Linked DNA regions of Homo sapiens: region 2 is linked to region 1. The links come from fine-mapping of genetic effects on gene expression. A gene starts in region 1. The other region holds a variant in brackets. All regions are shown on one strand. Distances are from middle to middle.

What was found. PIP is the estimated chance that this variant, and not a neighbour inherited with it, causes the effect. A credible set is the group of variants that fine-mapping cannot tell apart.
Region 2: its variant is the best candidate, but not a certain one, in a credible set for the expression of OXA1L-DT in lung (TOPMed, PIP 0.71).

Annotation. Positions count from the first base shown.
Region 1 is chr14:22,764,321-22,769,701 of GRCh38, forward strand. OXA1L-DT (OXA1L divergent transcript) reads right to left here and starts at 2,242. Exons shown (of 3, transcript XR_001750638.3): 1 at 2,104-2,242. OXA1L (OXA1L mitochondrial inner membrane insertase) reads left to right here and starts at 2,368. Exons shown (of 10, transcript NM_005015.5): 1 at 2,368-2,444; 2 at 2,928-3,089; 3 at 3,638-3,851. The coding sequence starts at 2,382. RefSeq lists enhancers at 963-1,526, 1,527-2,089, 2,090-2,653, 2,247-2,476.
Region 2 is chr14:22,731,122-22,736,502 of GRCh38, forward strand. The region is part of intron 1 of OXA1L-DT (OXA1L divergent transcript); the gene reads right to left. Among named protein-coding and RNA genes, the nearest start is that of OXA1L-DT, 33 kb to the right of the region's middle. The variant G/A (reference allele first, on the strand shown) is at 2,147.

The DNA.
Region 1 (5,381 bases):
GTATCTTCCAAGTTTGCCTGTACATTTTAGCTATCTATTATTAAACAACTTAGTGGCTTAAAACTACAATAATTTTATTTATTTGCTTGTAATTTTGCAATGTGGGCTCAAATAGCCTTTCTTTGCTCCACACGCAGTCACCTGAGGTGGCTCCAGTGGGCTGGAGAATCCACTTTTTAAATGGCCTTCTTCACGTGGCTGGCAAAAGTTGGTGTTGACTGCTGGCTGGGAGTTCAACTGAGGCTGTTGGCCCAAACCTCAGTTCTTCTTCACATGGTTGGTTGGGCTTTTCACAGGCAGTAAGTCTGAGAAGTCAAACTTCTAACACAGCAGCTGGCTTCCCCCGAATGCAAAAACAGAAGCTATCAGGCCTTCTTAAGGCATAGTCCCAAACTGGCATAACATCACTTCCAACGCATTCTACTATTGATTAAAGCAAGTGACAGGCCCAATCAGACTCAAGAGAAGAGAACTCCTAAAGGTGCAAATATTGGGAAGCCTGGTTCATTTGGGGCCACCAAAGTAGCAGTGTACTGTAAGATAGTCACCCTGCCAAGTGTTCTGTAGCTGTATATTTGTAATTACTTCTAATTGTATTGAGTTTTAAAAGTAATCTCTAAAAAAAAATCAGTGTTTCCATATCAAAAATCTATTGATGTTTATAATAGCATCCAACATATGCAAGTGTTAGCTCATACCACTAATTATTACTAAATCAGTATTATAGTTCTTTGCCTCCTATTTTCGCCATATCTGTCAGGTACATTCATAATCGTTCCAAATGAGCAGTCACTGAAATAATTTCAGGTTATTGTATCTTTCTGAAACTATAATTTGTTGTTTAGAAAGTAATCTGCATATTGAGAGACTTTGTAAGGGTTCAAACATAATCAAACTCCACCTTTCTGACCAGTAACTTTTTTCCCTGAAGATGAATGCTTTTAACTTCAAGAAACAGAACACCCAAGCAACAGACTTAGAGTCTAAACAGTAAAGACCTTTAATCATCTTTTTTTTTTTTTTTTTGAGATGGAGTCTGTCGCCCAGGCTAGAGTGAGGTGGCTCCACCTCGGCTCACTGCAACCTCCACCTCCCGGATTCAAGCGATTCTCCTGCCTCAGCCTCCCTAGTAGCTGGGACTACAGGTATGCACCACCACGCCCGCCTAGTTATTTTGTTTTTTTGTTTTTTGTATTTTTAGTAGAGACAGGATTTCACCATGTTGGCCAGGCTGGTCTCGATCTCTTGACCTAGTTATCGAGACCACCTCAGCCTCCCAAAGTGATGAGATTACAGGTATGAGCCACTGCACCCGGCCAAGACCTTTAATTAACTTACACAACAAAGTCTGGAGATAGGCAGTTCCAAGCATGGTACAGCAGCTCAATGATATCATCAAGTATTTGGGTGTTTTCTATCTTTGCCCTCAACCATCTTCAGCACGTGAGTTTTTCTTTCCTTTTTTTTTTTTTTTTTGAGACGGAGTCTCGCTCTTGTTGCCCAGGCTGGAGTGCAGTGGCACAATCCCGGCTCACTGCAACCTCTGCATCCCGGGTTCAAGTGATTCTCCTGCCTCAGCCTCCCGAGTAGCTGGGATTACAGGCGCCCACCACCACGCCCGGCTAATTTTTGTATTTTTAGTAGAAATGGGGTTTCACCATGTTGGCCAGGATGGTCTCGACCTCCTGATCTCGTGATCCACCCACCTCGGCCTCCCAAAGTACTGGGATTACAGACCTGAGCCACCGCGCCCGGCCTGCACGTGAGCTTTTCATCTGGAAACTTGTCCCCTCATGGTCAGTCCTCACACCACCCCACTTACAGAAGAAAAAAATGGAAAGGTGAAGTCTCCTCTGGAAGCTTCGTCTTTTTATCTGGGAGGAAAATATTTCCCAGAAGCTGCCTTCTTTTAATTTCTGTCAGACTCTAGACTACCCTCAAATTTCACTGGACCTGCGATTACAATATTACCTAGCAATAAGAATCAAAAGAATCGAACATCATTGAGTGGGAAAAATCCTCTGCAAGTACAGCCAAGCCTTTTCTGAGGCTATTTTTAAACTTACAAATCAGAGGACAATCGCGACATTAGAGGAAAATTACCCAGGTTTACGCCATCACTAACGATGATAGCTTACGATGATAGCTAACCCAGCTCTTCAACTTCCTTTCAATCTCCAGAAAAGGCTCTCTGCGTGCTAATGGTAACGTGGCTTTACAGATTTTTACCCACTTCAAATATGGCCGCCAAGCTCCGTTCTCTTTTACCGCCTGATCTGCGGCTACAATTCTGGCTTCATGCCCGCCTCCAAAAGTGCTTCCTCTCGAGGGGTTGTGGTTCTTACTGCGCAGGCGCAAAAGCAAGTCCTCTTCCGGGCAAAATGGCGATGGGACTAATGTGCGGACGCCGGGAGCTTCTGCGCTTGCTACAGTCCGGGCGTCGGGTAAGGATGCCCCGGGGCAGAGCACCGGGATGCTGCCCTGACCCAGTGAACCAGGCCCCAGGACAGCTCGTGCTAGGGGTATCAGCAGACGCTGACCTGCTCACCGGGACCTGAATGTCATGACCTCGGGTCATGTGAGGACGCGCTAGGGTTAGTCCCCGACACTATGGGCCCAGCAGCCCGGTGTCAGCTTCTGGAATTGGCTTGGCTCCTGGCGAGAGCACCTCGGCCTCGTTCTCAGGGCCCTCCGATGTGGGTCTGCGATAACTGAGATGCGGGGAACCCAGGTTCGAGCTTCGCTCTGCAGGCACCACCCGCTGCATGCCTTCGGGCTAGCGGTCTGCGCGCGGTGATAGCAATGTCCTCCCCTGTAGTGGCCGAGCTGCCTGCTTCTTGGGGAGTTAGCATAATGAATCCCGTTTGCACCCACGCGAGGACTTCTGCTCCCGGTAAAGGGGCTCCATCATCCTTTTACACGCTCAGGTCCACAGCGTCGCAGGGCCCTCGCAATGGCTTGGGAAACCGCTGACCACACGGCTCCTATTCCCAGCAGCCCCGTGCTGCTGTCGCCCACACTACCTCTTCCTTGCGGCTTCCGGCCCCCGCAGCCTCAGTACCTCTGCTATCTCTTTTGCAGAAGTCCAGGTAAGAGGCCTTTCGTTCCTGCAATATTAGGAGTGGTGTTTCCTGGTTGGTTTCATATTTTGTTTTGTTTGGGAGCAGGGGGAATATGGAGCAGAGTTCTTGTCCACGCTCCACACAGCTCTCCAAAATGATAGCATCTCTGCTTAGGATGGATTTTCAATTCAGTGGGGAAATGATTGAAAGTACAACAGGAGAGATGTTATATTTGGTTTTCTGAGCTGTTTTAAAGAAAAGCAATTGTTTCATGTTAATATATGGCAAAAATCATGATAGTGATATTCAAATGGCTGAAGTTTGGAAAACAGTGATAAAAGAAATAACTTCCCAGCATGAAGGGAAGTCATGGATTCTTACTCAAAGTAACTTCTCTTCCTAACTATTGATAAAAATGAGATGTCCTTTTTAAGCTTGAAATCTGCAGACACTAGGCTAACCTGGAAGAACAAGAAGTAGAGAGAACAGAACCCAGTACTGGTTATTATAAAAAGATCTCACTTGCTTTGTGTTCGCTACTGAATAAATATAATACAAGGCTTTCTTTCACACAGGTTCAGGCCCCTCCTGTTGTTGCTGCAACTCCCTCACCCACAGCAGTACCTGAGGTGGCTTCTGGAGAGACTGCAGATGTAGTCCAAACTGCTGCAGAGCAGAGCTTCGCTGAACTGGGGCTGGGGTCATACACCCCAGTGGGACTGATCCAGAATTTACTGGAATTTATGCATGTTGATCTGGGCCTACCTTGGTGGGGGGCCATTGCTGCATGTAAGGGGAATATACCCTGGACATGGGTTAGGGATTTAACCTCATAGATGGCAATTCTTTGAATGGATTCAGGAAGTAGTTGCAGAAGCTCTGGGGTCAGAAGAGCAGATGATTTCAAATGAGCAATAGAGGTTCATGATACCTAGATGCACTCTGCCTATATTTCTTAAAGAGCATTATAAAACCACCAGATCATCTGGGATTCAAGAAGTGTAGATATTTGAATACAAACATGGGGTTAGAGTCAGGGGACCTTATTAACAGTCATGAAGCTATCCTGGTTTAGAACAGAGGTTCAGGTCAGGCACTTAAACCCCTAAATTGGGAAGCCACTAGCATTGCTTTTGTAAAGGCTAGAACTCTGCTTTGAATTATGTGTCTTTCTGCCACGTTGCTCCATCAATTATCTTTTCTCCCCTGTGTCTTCAGCATTTCCCTCCTCACTGCCCTACCCCGAACATGTAAACATGCTCAGGCACACCCATGTGTTACCTGGGGGAAGGTTTCTTCCCTTCATCCTTAGTTCCCCTTCACTTACTATCCTATCTTCTTCCTTTGATGGCTGTTATTTATTTTGTTGTTGTTAATTTTTGTGGATACCTAGTAGGTGTATATATTTATGGGCTACATGAGATGTTTTGATAGAGGCATGCAAGGTGTAATAATCACATTATGGAGAATGAGATATCCATCCCCTTAAGCATTTATCCTTTAAGTTACAAACAATCCAATTACACTTTTATTTTATTTTTTATTTTATTTATTTTTTTAAACGGAGTCTTGCTCTGTCACCCAGGCTGGAGTGCAGTGGTGCAGTCTCAGCTCACTGCAACCTCCACCTCCCAGGTTCTAGCGATTCTCATGTCTCAGCCTCTCAAGTAGCTGGGACTACAGGTGTGCCACCACACCTGGCTAATTTTTACGTTCTTTATTTAAAAATATGCTATTATTACTGACTATAGTCACCCTGTTGTGCAATCAATAGTAGATCTTATTCTAACTTTTTTTTACCCATTAACTATTCCCAACCCTGACTACCCTTCCCAGCCTCTGGTACCTTCCTTCTACTCTCTGCCCATGATTTCATTTGTTTTGATTTTTAGATCTCACAAATAAGTGAGAACATGGCGATGTTCGTCTTTCTGTGCTTGCCTTATTTCACTTAACATAGTGATCTCCAGTTCCATCCACGTTGTCACAGATGACTGGGTTTCATTCTTTTGATAGCTGTTACTTAAAAGACTGCTCTGCATCCAATTAGCCTACTTCTTTCCATTTACTCCCTCAGCCGTCTGGCTTTTACTCATATCACCTCATTCGAACTGCCAGTAACATAATTGCTAAATCCACTCCTGTCAGCTTTTTGTTTGAGGAAACAAACAGGATTCCTAATCATCTGCTTAGAGAAGTTAATGCCATACTTTTGTGATGCCAAATTAGAGAACTGAGCCTTAAAGCAACTAATTCATTCCCCTGACCTTATTTCTGGGCCTCTTAGGCATGAGTCATAGAATGGACAAGGCAAGAATA
Region 2 (5,381 bases), 33 kb before region 1:
AATTACATAAAAATTGTCACACATGCTTCCAAGGAACTTCCTCTCTCCCCAATTCTTTTTTTTTTTTTTTTTTGAGACCGAGTCTGGAGTGCAGTGGCACAATCTCGGCTCACTGCAACCTCTGCCTCCCACTCTCTCACCAATTCTGATGTCGTAGATGATCTTTCCTTTTGCCTGTCACACTCTCCTCAGCCTGCACCTGCTTCACCTATACCCTCTCCATTTGCTCCATCCCCGAGTCAACGCCCCTCCATATCCAGACACTTCATCCCCCTCACATACTCTCATGGGAGTCACATATGCCACTAGTACAGAGTCCTCAGAATATCCCAATAATGTTTTGCCTTTCCATGAGGTGACAAATGGAAACTTGGGAACAATTCAAGTCATGTCCCTTTCACAAATTTAATCCAAGTTGGGTTCATTTAGCCAGGATCCCTTTAAGCTCATTAAAGAATTGTGGGCTTTTGACTATTGCCTTTGATTTAACCTGGCAAGACATGTATGTGGTATTAACTACTTGTTGTTCCCACAAAGAAAAATCATGCATATGGTCTTTAGCTTGAGTTTTTGGGCAGATGAAGCTCATGCTCATAATTAATGGTAATAGAGCCAGGGCAATAGGTGACCACAACACAGAAACCAGCTGGCAATATCAGGCTGCTGATGCCAGCCCAAACAGAGGCGGGATTACATGATAGCTTGCTTGTTGGAAGGAATGAAAAAGCCTGTAATAAAACCTATTAATTTTTCTTTTTTCTTTTTCTTTTCTTTTTTTTTTTTTTTTTTTGAGATGGAGTCTCACTCTGTCGCCCAGGCTGGAGTGCAGTGGCGCAACCTCGGCTCACTGCAACCTCCACCTCCTGGGTTTAAGCAATTCTCTGCCTCAGCCTCCAGAATAGCTGGCATTACAGGTGCATGCCACCACGCCCGGCTAATTTTTTTGTATTTTTAATAGAGACGGGGTTTCACCATCTTGGCCAAGCTGGTCTTGAACTCCTGACCTCATGATCCACCTGTCTCAGCCTCCTAAAGTCCTGGAATTACAGGCGTGAGCCACTGCACCGGGCCAATTTTTCTAAATTACCGGAAATTACCCAGCAGCCATCTGAGAACCCCACCCTTTTCCAAATTAGACTGGTGGAGGCCATACATAAATATACAAATTTAGATCCTGAAAGCCCTGAGGGCCAGTTCACTCTGGCCATACATTTTATAAGTCAGGCTTCCCCAGACATCAGACAAAAACTCCAAAAATTAGAGCAAGGCCCACAGATTCCCTTTCCGACTTTATTAAATACAGCCTTTAAGGTTTTCAATAACTGGGAGGAAACCTCAAAAATAAAAAAGACTCAATTGGAGGAAGAACAATGCCATCGCCAAGCTAATTATGTGGTAACACAGCATTGACACGTTCTTTTTCGTTAGTTAATAACCCCAAGGCATGTCCCTATAATACTAACAGAATGGGGGCCTGTCATCACTGCAGAAATCCAGGATATTGGCGTAGAGAACATTCCAAACCTCCAGGTTACAAAGCTGCCCCCAGGATCCTGTCCTCATTGTAAACAAGAGGGTCATTGGAACAGCGAGTGTCCTTCTCTCCCTCATGAGGAGGGGCCACCTCCTCCTTCTGGGCCGTCGCAGCCACAACCTCACCAACCTACCCAACAAGGGGGTCCTGCAGAAAGAGGACAAGGGCAAGGGCAAGCACAAGCACCTCTAACTCTATTCCTGGATTATGATCGAGCCTCTGAAAGTCATCCCCTAGATGACTGATGGGGCCTTGAGGCCATCCAGGCCCTTACCTTTTCCAACTCTATGGAGGAGCCTCAGTCAATCCAGCTGTGGCTGAACAAGAAATAATGTTCCTCATAGATACAGGGTTCAGCTTCAAATGTTGACCAAATGTGCCAGTCCTCCATATTCCTCACGGGCATTGACGAAAAACCCCAATGAGGCTGTTTCACACAGCCACTCCCTTGAAAAATGGAAGGCTATTTCTTTACCCACTCCTTTTTAGTCCTACCAAGTTGCTCTGGGTTTTTTTTGTTGTTTTTTTTTTTTTTTTGAGACAGAGTCTTGCTCTGCCACCCAGGCTGGAGTCCAGTGACGTGATCTTGGCTCACTGCAACCTCCACCTGCC[G/A]AGTTTAAGCGATTCTCCTGCCTCAGCCTCCTGAGTAGCTGGGATTACAGGTGTGGGCCACTGACACCCAGCTAATTTTTGTATTTTTAGTAGAGATGGGGTTTCACCATGTTGGCCAGGATGATCTTGATCTCCTGACCTTGTGATCTGCCCTCCTCGGCCTCCCTAAGTGCTGGGCTTAGAGGGGTGAGTCACTGCCCCTGGCCTAGAATTATTATTATTATTATAATTATTATTATTATTACTATTACTATTTTTGAGACGGAGTTTCGCTCTTGTTGCCCAGGCTGGAGGGCAATGGCTTGATCTCGGCTCACCGCAACCTCCGCCTCCCAGGTTCAAGAGATTCTTCTGCCTCAGCCTCTCGAGTAGCTGGGATTACAGGCATGCGCCACCACGCCTGGCTAATTTTGTATTTTTAGTAGAGAAGGGGTTTCTCCATGTTGGTCAGGCTGGTCTCAAACTCCTGACCTCAGGTGATCCGCCTGCCTCAGCCTCCCAAAGTGCTGGGATTACAGGCATGGGCCACCACACCCAGCCCCTAGAATCACTGATGAAGCTGTAATTTCTATTCATCCTATTGTCCCAAATTCTTACACACTTTTTGGACAAACTCCCACCACCACAGCTTGGTTTATCATACTTGATCTTAAGGATGACTTTTTTGCATTCCTGTACACCAAGATAGCCAAATTTCGTTCACTTTTGAATGGCAATATCCACATACACAAATAACTCAACCATTAACTCATGCAGTTCTGCCCCAGGGATTCAGAGATAGCCTCCACCTTTTTGGACAGGCTCTAGCTAGGGACTTGTCCACCCTGCAGCTTCTCCCATATAGCAATCTGCTCCAGTATGTGGATGACCTACTAATCTGTAGTCCTAACGAGGCTGTTTCAGACCAAAATACAGTATTAGTACTAAACAAACTTGCTGATTGTGAATACAAATTATCTTCTTCTAAGGCCAAAACACCCACACAAAGAGTTCAATTTTGGGGTCTTATCTTAACCCTTGGTACAAAGAGCCTCTCTAGTGCTCGTAAAGATCTTAAACATGACAACTCTAGTAAATAAACAACAGCTTTGGTCCTTTCTGGGTAGAGTCAGGTTTAATATGGATTCCTTCCTTCAGATTAATAGCAAAATCTTTATATGAAGCTTTCAAGGGAACTGAGGAACAGCCTCTAACATGGACTAATGATATGAAACATGCTCTAAACACTTTTAAACAGGCTTTAATCTCAGCCCCAGCCCTAGCCTTACCAGATCTGACTAAGCCTTTCTTTTTGTATGTACACAAACAAAAGGGAATCGCTTTGGAAGTCTTAGACCAAGATCTGGAGCCCTCTAAGTGCCCTACAGAATATTTTTCAAAAACTTTAGACTTGGTACCCCAGGGATGGCACCCCTACTTAAAAATAGCAGTGGTCCAAGCACGGTGGCTCTCGCCTATAATCCCAGCACTTTGGGAGACTGAGGTGGGAGGATCACAAGGTCAGGAGTTCGAGACCAGCCTGGCCAACATGGTGAAACCCCGTCTCTACTAAAAAAATATATAAAAATTAGCTGGGTGTGGTGTGCACCTGTAATCCCAGCTACTCGGGGGGCTGAGGCAGGAGAATTGCTTGAACCTGGGAGGCGGAGGTTGCAGTGAGCCGAGATTGTGCCATTGCACTCCAGCCTGGGCAACAGACAAAAACTCCATATGGGGAGGGAAAAAAAAAAAGCTGCAGTGGCCCTCTTAGTCCAAAAAGCCTCCAACTATATTACCTGCTCCTCCTGGGCTCTTAGGGCTTTGTGGCACTGCCAATAATTATTTAAACTCTTTTCAAGCTTTGGCCCTATCCCACCTTGATAATTCTCTTCATTATGGTGATTGCACTCTGAGAACAATAGTTCCCATCCAAATCACTGTCTTGAATATAACTTCCAATTCAGAATTCCATTCTAGAAGAAAGGGAGCCCTAGGACTTATTATGGCTGGAGTTGTGGGAACGATTGCAACACTCACCCCTTGAGGGGGTTTTGCTTACCATGAAATCACACTACAAGGACATACTGTCTCCCTTGAAATAGCCTTAGCAAAAACTGGTGCAAGTCTATCAGCAATAGAAAAGTCTTTAGACTCGCTAGCAGGAATGGTGTTTGATAACAGATGAGCTCTGGATTATCTAATAGCTGAACAAGGAGGAGTCTGTGCTGTCATCAACAAAACCTGTTGCACCTACATTAATGTGTATGGAGAAGTGGAACTTCCAATGTCCAAAAAATTTTTTAATAAGCCAAGTGGCTACACACACCTTCCCAAAGTAGCCAAGACTGGGCCAGAACCTTTACTGATTGCTCTCCAAAAATCACTTGGCTTCTCCCATTCTGGACCTTTATTCCTTGTCATTCTTTTAATATTTGGTCCCTGCCTTTTTAATGCTCTCGTTAAGTTTACATCTTTGATATTAAAACAATTCCACCTACAGATGGCTATGCAATCCCAATACCAGCCTGCAACAGCAACTTCCATTCACATGGGGTCTCTTGATGGAATTCAGTCTTCCCCACAAGTCTTTCATGACCCTTCATTCCCTTCATGACAGAGAGCAAGAAAGGGAAAAACTCAACCGAAACCCTTAACACCCCTTTTCAGCAGGAAATAGCCAGACGTACTTGTCACCCCTCTTCACTGTGCCATTTTCCCTCTCTTGAGACCCCAATAGGCAGCAGGTAGCCATGATCATGAGGGAACATAAAGGGCCAAAGATTTGACCAAAATGTCTGTCAGGGAAAAAATGAAAACAGCAAATCACCTGGTGACCATCTAGCAGGCCCTGGAGACAAAAACTCCTTATCTGAGGAATTTAGAAGTAATTAAACTTCCCTCTTATCTAAAGGCATCTGGTTCCAGGCCTTTTCTCAACTTAAAATTTGTAAGTAACTAGAATTTCTTTTTTTTTTTTTTTTTTTTTGAGACGGAGTCTCGCTGTGTCTCCCAGGTTGGAGTGCAGTGGCGCGATCTCGGCTCACTGCAAGCTCCGCCTCCCAGGTTCATGCCATTCTCCTGCCTCAGCCTCCCAAGTAGCTGGGACTACAGGCGCCCGCCAACACGCCCGGCTAATTTTTTGTATTTTTAGTAGAAACGGGGTTTCACCGTGTTAGCCAAGATGGTCTCGATCTCCTGACCTCGTGATCCGCCCGTCTCGGCCTCCCAAAGTGCTAGGATTACAGGCGTGAGCCAC